2 separate regions of the Homo sapiens genome follow, and region 2 is reported to be linked to region 1. The links are microRNA targets in miRTarBase. Many come from high-throughput screens and were not tested one by one. Region 1 holds a microRNA gene; the other region holds the end of a gene's coding sequence.

The links. The annotated mature microRNA hsa-miR-1180-3p reads UUUCCGGCUCGCGUGGGUGUGU and lies in region 1 at 1,399-1,420, opposite strand. An mRNA with a match to its seed (bases 2 to 7 or 8) in the 3' UTR can be bound and repressed. Matches are read on the target gene's strand: a 7mer-m8 pairs with bases 2 to 8, a 7mer-A1 pairs with bases 2 to 7 and ends in A, and an 8mer does both.
Region 2: miRTarBase lists TBX1 as a target of hsa-miR-1180-3p. The part of its 3' UTR that is shown has no 7-base or 8-base seed match.

Annotation. Positions count from the first base shown.
Region 1 is chr17:19,343,115-19,347,383 of GRCh38, forward strand. MIR1180 (microRNA 1180) reads right to left here and starts at 1,460; the gene lies at 1,392-1,460. B9D1 (B9 domain containing 1) reads right to left here. Exons shown (of 7, transcript NM_015681.6): 5 at 4,155-4,217; 6 at 676-743; 7 at 61-347. The coding sequence ends at 205. RefSeq lists a silencer at 2,482-2,776 and an enhancer at 2,482-2,776.
Region 2 is chr22:19,766,680-19,769,679 of GRCh38, reverse strand. TBX1 (T-box transcription factor 1) reads right to left here. Exons shown (of 7, transcript NM_001379200.1): 7 at 2,346-3,000. The coding sequence ends at 2,813. Among named protein-coding and RNA genes, the nearest start is that of TBX1, 7.4 kb to the right of the region's middle.

The sequences.
Region 1 (4,269 bases):
AGCCCCCAGCTCCTGTGGGGGAGGGGCTAAACAGGAGAGAAGGCAGCCCCAGGCCTAGGCTCTCTGAAAATGAGACTTTATTATACAAAACTATTCTGTGTGCCCCCAGCTCTGGCCACCAGGCTGCCCCTCAGGCCGATGGGCAGCGGCTGACTTCGGGAAGGCAGCCCTTCATTATCAGAGACTGTGCAGCCTGTGGAGCCTTCACTGGGGGAAGCTCTGGGGTGGGCTGGGCCCCAACACACCCTGTGTATCAGAAGGCCCAGTGTCATAGCCCAGTTTCCTCATGTCCTTGGTCACCACGTTGAAGAGGAGGGTGACAAAGCCCTGAGAACGGACACGGGTCACTGGGGACAGAAGGGCAGCATCAGCCAGGCTGGGCTGGGGCAGAGAGAGACCCAGGTTGATCTGGGAATCTCAGCCTCAGCGTTCTCATCTGTAAAATGGGGACAACAGTGCCTGACCCAAGCCCCTCACTGGGAGGTAAAGGGGCTGCCGGGACAGGCAGACATGACAAACCCTCTGTGCTCCAACCAGGCCCTCATCTGGGAACATTTGTGGGCTAGCTCCTATGTGCCTGGCAGGTCCCCGGCATTCACCCCAACCCTGGGCCCACCCACTCCCAGGCTGTAACCTGTATGGGGGATGGGGGTAAGAGAGGGGAGGGAGCTTTACCTTCCCGGCCTTCACCCTGAGCCACCACCTTGGGGTCTGTGTACTCGGGCCGCCGCCCCATGAACCAGCTGGGAACACAGAAGAACACAGGTGAGCAGGGCCCCACCTGGGCATTCCTGGTCTTGGACGACACTGGATGTGGGCTCTCCTCGGTTCAGAAACCAGCACTCTTGTTCCAACCGCACCCCACCCCCACCAGGAGTCAGGCCCTAAGCAGAGCCTTCCCAGTGGCTGGGCTCCAGCGTGGGGTGTCCCTTGCCGAGGTCACACAGCCTAGCCAGGCCTCATGTGCTCTGCAGCCACGCTGCCTCCGCTGGCCGGTTAGGCTTTTCCATCTCTGGCTTCCATGGGTTTGGTTCACTGGGAATGAGAGCTCAGGAAGATTCTGGGGTGGGGGTGCTACCTGAACCCCCAGAAATCCCAGAAAAGTGACAGCAGCTGAGGTGGGGGAGGGGAGGGGACAGTGTGACCCTCCAGCCTCCCTGGAAGGGGGTCCCACCCCAGAGAGTCTGTGGGGTGGGCAGAAGGGCCAGAACGGCTCCTCAGCCTTACCTCCCACTAGTGTGGGGTCCAGGACATGTCACTTCCCATCTTGGCACCCACCGCAGGCCCTGCCAGGGGCGGCACACAGCCACCAGGCTGAGCATGCGCCCTCCCCAGCCCCAGACCCCAGTTGGGCCAGGCGGGAGGCCAGGAGGCCGGGGGTGTCAGGCCCCGCCGCCGACACACCCACGCGAGCCGGAAACAACCAGGAGCACTATTCCCGGCCGGGTGGGTCCAGCAGCCGCGGGCTTCGCCCCGCCGGGACTCGCGGCCGCGCCTCCTCTGTACCACAGCTCCCAAGGTCCCCCCACGGACACACCCGGCCCCGAGGGTCGCTGGCAACCATGCCGACCCAAAAGCCCACGCACCGCCCTCCCCGCGGCCTCTCCGTCTCTGAGGTGGGCACCAGCGCTCACCTGGGGCGGCTGCAGAGGGGCCCAGGCCAGGGAGGGGCTCTCAGCTGCCGCAGAGTTGGCCTGTGGAGACCACAGCCAGGGAGCACTGCCCACCAGCCCCCAACCCCAAGGAGGGAGCCAGAGAGTGAAAGCCAGCAGGCGCTCCCCAAGGGGAAGGGATGGGCAGCCACAACCCCTGCGCCTCAGTTTCTCCTTTGGGAGAGCAAGACTCTCACAGCACCCACCTCACAAGAGGCTATGTATGAGGACTGGGGCCTGGGAGCATCCCCACTGTGCCCAGCAGATCCCATCCCGGAGCTCACATGGAGCTCCCGTTCCCACTGAATTTCTTTCCTGGGGTCCACCCGGGTGGTCTGCTTAGCTGGCTGGGGTTGGGGAGACAAGACAGGCTGTTCTGGGAGAGCATTCCAGGCAAGGACCTGAGGCAAGGAAGGACCCCTCAGACTGCAGGAACTGAGGTAGATGGGAAGCAAGTGGGCAGAGGCCATGAGGTAGGCAGGGCCCGACCACCGGCCTGGCAGCATTCTGGTTGAAGTTCATTCTGACAGAGACAGGTTCTAGCAGGGGAGGGGTGCAGCCCCAGTTGTGTTTTAGGAACACCGTTTTTCTTGCTATGTGAAGACTAGACTGGAGGGGTGGCAGCAGGCTGAATGACGGCCCCTCAAAGATAGCAGATCCTAGTCCTGGGAAACCGTGCACGTGACCTTATTGAGAAACAGGGTCACGTGCACTTTGCACAGATATGATTAGGCTAAGGATCTTGAGGCGACTATCCAGGTGGACCCTAAAGGCCAGGACTCGAGTGATGAGGCCACAAGCCAAGGAAGGCTGGGGCCACCAGAAACTGAAAGGGCAATAAACAGAGTCTCCCCTAGAGCCTTGGGAGGGAGCACAGCCCTGTGGTGCCTTTTCTGGGCCCAGTGACCTGGATTTTGAACTCTGGCCTTCAGCATACATTTCTGCTGTTTTCAGCTATCACATTTGTGTGTTTTGTTGCAGCAGCCACCGTGGGAAACGAATACAGTGGCCAAGAGTGTTTGGGGCAGGCCCTAGGCCAGCGCTGGAGGATGTGGGGAGAGGCTGGGAGAGGGGTGGGGATGACCGAGGTGTCAGCCTGAGCAAGGAGCCTCCATATCTGGGAAGATTCTGCCAATCAAACTGCCTTCACTAATCAGAACTTTCTCCAGTTTTTGTAATCCAAGCACATACTGCCTTGCCCAGTTGCGAGCCCCTCCACAGGGGCTGTGAAACCCTTTCCTCAGCGAGCTGTCCCCTGGAGGCCCAAAGTCCTCCTTGGAGCTGTGGGCGGTGGAACAGGGTGAATAACCCAGCCTGGATGGCTGTGTGGGTCCCCAGTCTCTTAGGCTTTCCCAACCCACTGATGGGCACTGCCTCGCTGCCTCCCTGACAGCCTGTGGCATGGGGATTGTCACCTCCAGGTGATACTGGCCCAGGTCATCTGGGAAAGAAGTCCTTTGCTACAGGGTGGCCTCCCAGAAGGACTCCTAGGGGCAGTAGGCACACAAATTCTCAGGCTGAGGCCAGCGGAGACCCTGCCCTTCCTCCCCTCCACGGCTCTCAGAGCTCAGTGAAGCATTCTCGGCCCTGGGCGCGATGCTGTCCCTCCACCCAGCAGGGCTCTGGCCTGGTCTCACGCCCAGTACTGGCCAGGCTCGCAGGGGCTGCTTGCCGGCTGCTGCCCTGGAACCCAGGGAGTCCTCCATGTTCCACTTGTGCCTCACTAATCTGCCGGTGGGCGGCAGAGGCTTGCTGCCCAACTGCGCTAATGGTCCTCGAGTCAGAAGGCCAGGGCCCAGCTGGCCCTCTAAGCTCCCACTTGGATGTGAGCAGGGGTAAGAGGCCTTCATGCTGGGGCTGCATCCAGGCATCCCCTGGGCCCTCCCTGCAGGCCCTTGTGTCCTGGCCCCTGCCTGCCTCCCTGATGTCTCCCTCATTCTGCCTGGCTTACCACTTACTGGCCACACTGCCGTCCTGGCCACACCACCGTCCTGGCTTCTCTAGCATGCTAAGCTCACGCTCTCCTCAGCCTGGCAGGCACTGTTCCCTGTGCCTGATGTTCTTCCCCGGCTCTTCCCTCCACACTAAGCCTCTGCGCAAATGTCAGCTCCGGCCAGAGACTCCCACATGTAAAGGCATTTATCATGATTACTGTTCCAAGGTGTCTGACTCATACTGCTATATCCTCTTGTTTCCCACCTTTTAATGTCACATTATGTCATGAGCATTTTTCCCATCTGACAAGAGTTTTTCCTCTGCTCCCTCAGACACAAAGATTTTTCACAGGGCACAGGGTAAAATCGCCCGGCCTTCTGCTGCTGGAACAGGGCTGAAGGGAGCCCCGTGACTCAGCACTCCCAGGGGACCTGTTTCTATTTGTCCTCAGTGGGTGGAGCAGCTTGCAGATCTGAGGAGGCGACCAGGCACAAACTGAGGGGTAGAATGGGACATCCATTCATCCAGTAGATCAGGAGGGGCTGGGGTTATGGGTACAAAACTCACCTTGTAAACTTCTGCAGTTTAGACGTAGATTCTGGGACAAACATGGGGATGGTCCTTTTGTGCCTGAAACAAATGTTTTTGCAGACAGAGATGCTGAGTAAGAGACCTTTCTGAG
Region 2 (3,000 bases), not on the chromosome of region 1:
CAGGCCTTAGGGCAGCTGCCCATGGGAACGTCACCTCCACAGGAACGGTAGTGGCTGGGGCATCAGCCAGACAGCCCCCGCAGCGGGCAGGCAATCACTGGGCACTGGTTGAGGACTGAGCACATGAGGGACGGTGAGCAGCGGCGTGCGCCAGTCTTGCAGACACACAGCCAGCGGAAGCTGCCACCCAGACGCCGGCCTGCGAGCTCTCATTTACAAGAAGTTCTCAGATGCACAAACTCATCTACAAAGGTGGAGGGGAGGAAACCCACACTTCTGGGGGCCACTGCCCAGCGTGGGAGTGCCCTCAGCAGCAACAGCAGCAGTGTGGTGACCCGCGGCCTGTGAGCCACGGAGCACCTGGAATGGGGCCAGTGAGGACCTGAATGTTTAATGAATCCTAGTTCATTAGGACGTGTGGCCGAGTGTGATGGCTCATGCCTGAAAGCCCAGCATTTTGGAAGACCAAGGCAGGCGGGTCACCTGAGGTCAGGAGTTCGAGACCAGCCTGGCCAACATGGTGAAACCCCGTCTCTACTAAAAATACAAAAATTAGCCGGGCATGGTGGTACATTCCTGTAGTCCCAGCTACTCTGAGGCTGAAGCAAAAGAAATCACTTGAACCCAGGAGGCGGAGGTTGCAGTGAGCCGAGATCGCACCACGGCATTCCGGCCTGGGCGACAGAGCGCGACTCAGTCTCAAAAAAAAAAAAAAAAAAAAAAAAAGAATGCGAACAGCCCCGGATGGCCAGCGGCGGCCCTGCTGGACGGCTGGGTGCTCCATCTTGCATGGCCATCCCAACAGGAGGGGCACGGTAACAGGCCAGTTTGCTGCACACTCAGGGTCCTTGCACATTGCTGTGTGTCCCACCCTCATTTACAAACACTGTGTTTGCTCTTTGTTCAGGGGAGGGCTTTTCCTCCCTTTAGCTCTGAACAAAACCAAGGCGGAGGTCTCGAATGGCAGCCCCTCCGCACATCCTGGATGTGGAGTACGGAATGGCTGCCTTCTGACAGCAAGAGAGGGAGGCCCTCTGCAGTGCAAAGCCCCACCCACCGTGGGGCACATGGGTAATGGCTGCCCCAAGTTCACGCAGGTGGGGATCAGGACTTGGGAATGGGCATCCACAGCCGTCCCCCCAAATGCATCTCCAAAGCCGTGCTCACGGAGCCTGGGCAGATGCTGCAGAGGTCCTCACTCTCTGGTGCTAGATGCCCTTTGAGGCTTTGGATGGCCCCTGGAGACCCCCTCCCACCCTAGACTGGCCTCTGGGAATGGTTCCTGCCATTCAATTACTAAGACCCCACTCACTTCACGCCGCCAGAGCAAACATGTATACGAAAAACAGGTCCGCGAGGGTGGACATCTGGAAACTCCTGGCTGTGCCCTCGGAGAGGTGGCACTCAGGCTGCCGCTACCACGTGGGGTGATGAGCCGAGTGGCCTAGAAGGCAGCAGTTGCCACAAACACACTGGGACAGGCACGGGAGGTGGGGGACAGAGCCTCGGCCACGTGCACTTCCCGTTCATCTTGTGTCCAAGTCAGCAGCCTTGGCGCTGACCGGCTGTCAGCCCTTCCTGCTTGCGCTCAGGAAGGGAGGGATCAAAGAGTTCCTCTCGCCCCATCCCTGGTGTTGAGTTAACGGGGAGAGGTCCCTTAGCCACCTGGCCTGGGAAAAATGCTTCATACACAGGTCTCAAGATGACTCATGGCTACTGTCATTGTGCCCCCTGGCCAGGTCACTCCGTAGGGACACTCACAGCAAATAAAGTCACTAAGGAGGGAACATGCGGGCCTGGGCTAGGCCGGCAGGGGAAATGCTAGCAGAACAGTGCTGCCTGTTTTTGTCTTTCCATGACCCCATCCCGGTCAGGGGCTTCTCCCCCTCCCAGCACCGACCGGCAGTGTCTGTCATGACCCTTCTTCCCAGCTTCCATGGAAAAGCACAAGCATCTGTCCCGAAAACAGGCCAGGGCGCAGGCCCAAGTCCCAGAATAGGGACAACTGCAGGTGGGAGGAATTTAAGTAAAAAGGCAGGATGCACACCTGGGCGGTACCACCAGCCCTGGGGAGGTTGGGATGAGACGGGACGGTGGGAAGGTGGGGGGAGTGCACAGGCCTGGCAGGAGGGGCCTCGGAGAGGGGAGGGGCAGTGGGAGCCCCTATGGGGCGGGCAGAGGGCAGGAGGCGTGGCGGACAGGGCGCTGTGGGACCGGGACCGACCTACAGTCGGCAGGGATTGGGGCTGGGGAGGCCCTGAGGGCCCTGAGCTACCCCGGGCTCGCTGTCCCGAAGATTCCCAACGCGATCTAACTGGGCACAAATAAATGGACACGCAGGCGGCTTCCAAAAGAGGCGAAACCGTTTATCAAGTCGGCGCCGGGGCGGTATCTACAGTATCTACAGTATCTACATGTATCTACACCGCCTGCAGGCGGGGCTCTCGGGCTGTCTACACTGCAACTGCCGGCCGGGCCGCGGGCGACGCGGTCTCGGGGAGAACAATAAATATCACTTCCTTCCGCCTCCGACCGGGCGCTTTGGCACTGGCGGGCGGGGACCCCCTTGGCCCTCGGGGCCGGGGAAGGACCCGCGGTGGCTCCAGGGACTGGGGAACCGGATACTTCGATAGCCCAAGGGGCTGGGGGTGGCGAGGGGGCCCCCATGGCTTCGAGGCTGGGGAAGGGGAGAGCCGCGGTGGCCCCTGGGGCTGGGGGAACGTATTCCTTGCTTGCCCTTGGGGCAGGGTGGCCGGGCCCGGCGAACTTCGGGGCTGTGCAGGACCGGGGCGGGAGCGCGACAGGGCCCGTGTTATCTGGGGCAATAGTCGTAGGAGCCGGGCGGCGCGGCTCCGGCCGACGAGTACATGTTGGCGGCCGCGGCAGCTGCGGCAGCGGCGGCGGCGGCCGCGGCGGCTGGACTCACGGGGTGGTGGTGGTGGTGCGGATGCGCGTGCGGGTGGTAGCCGTGGCCACGCAGGCCGGGCAGCGGGTAGGGCG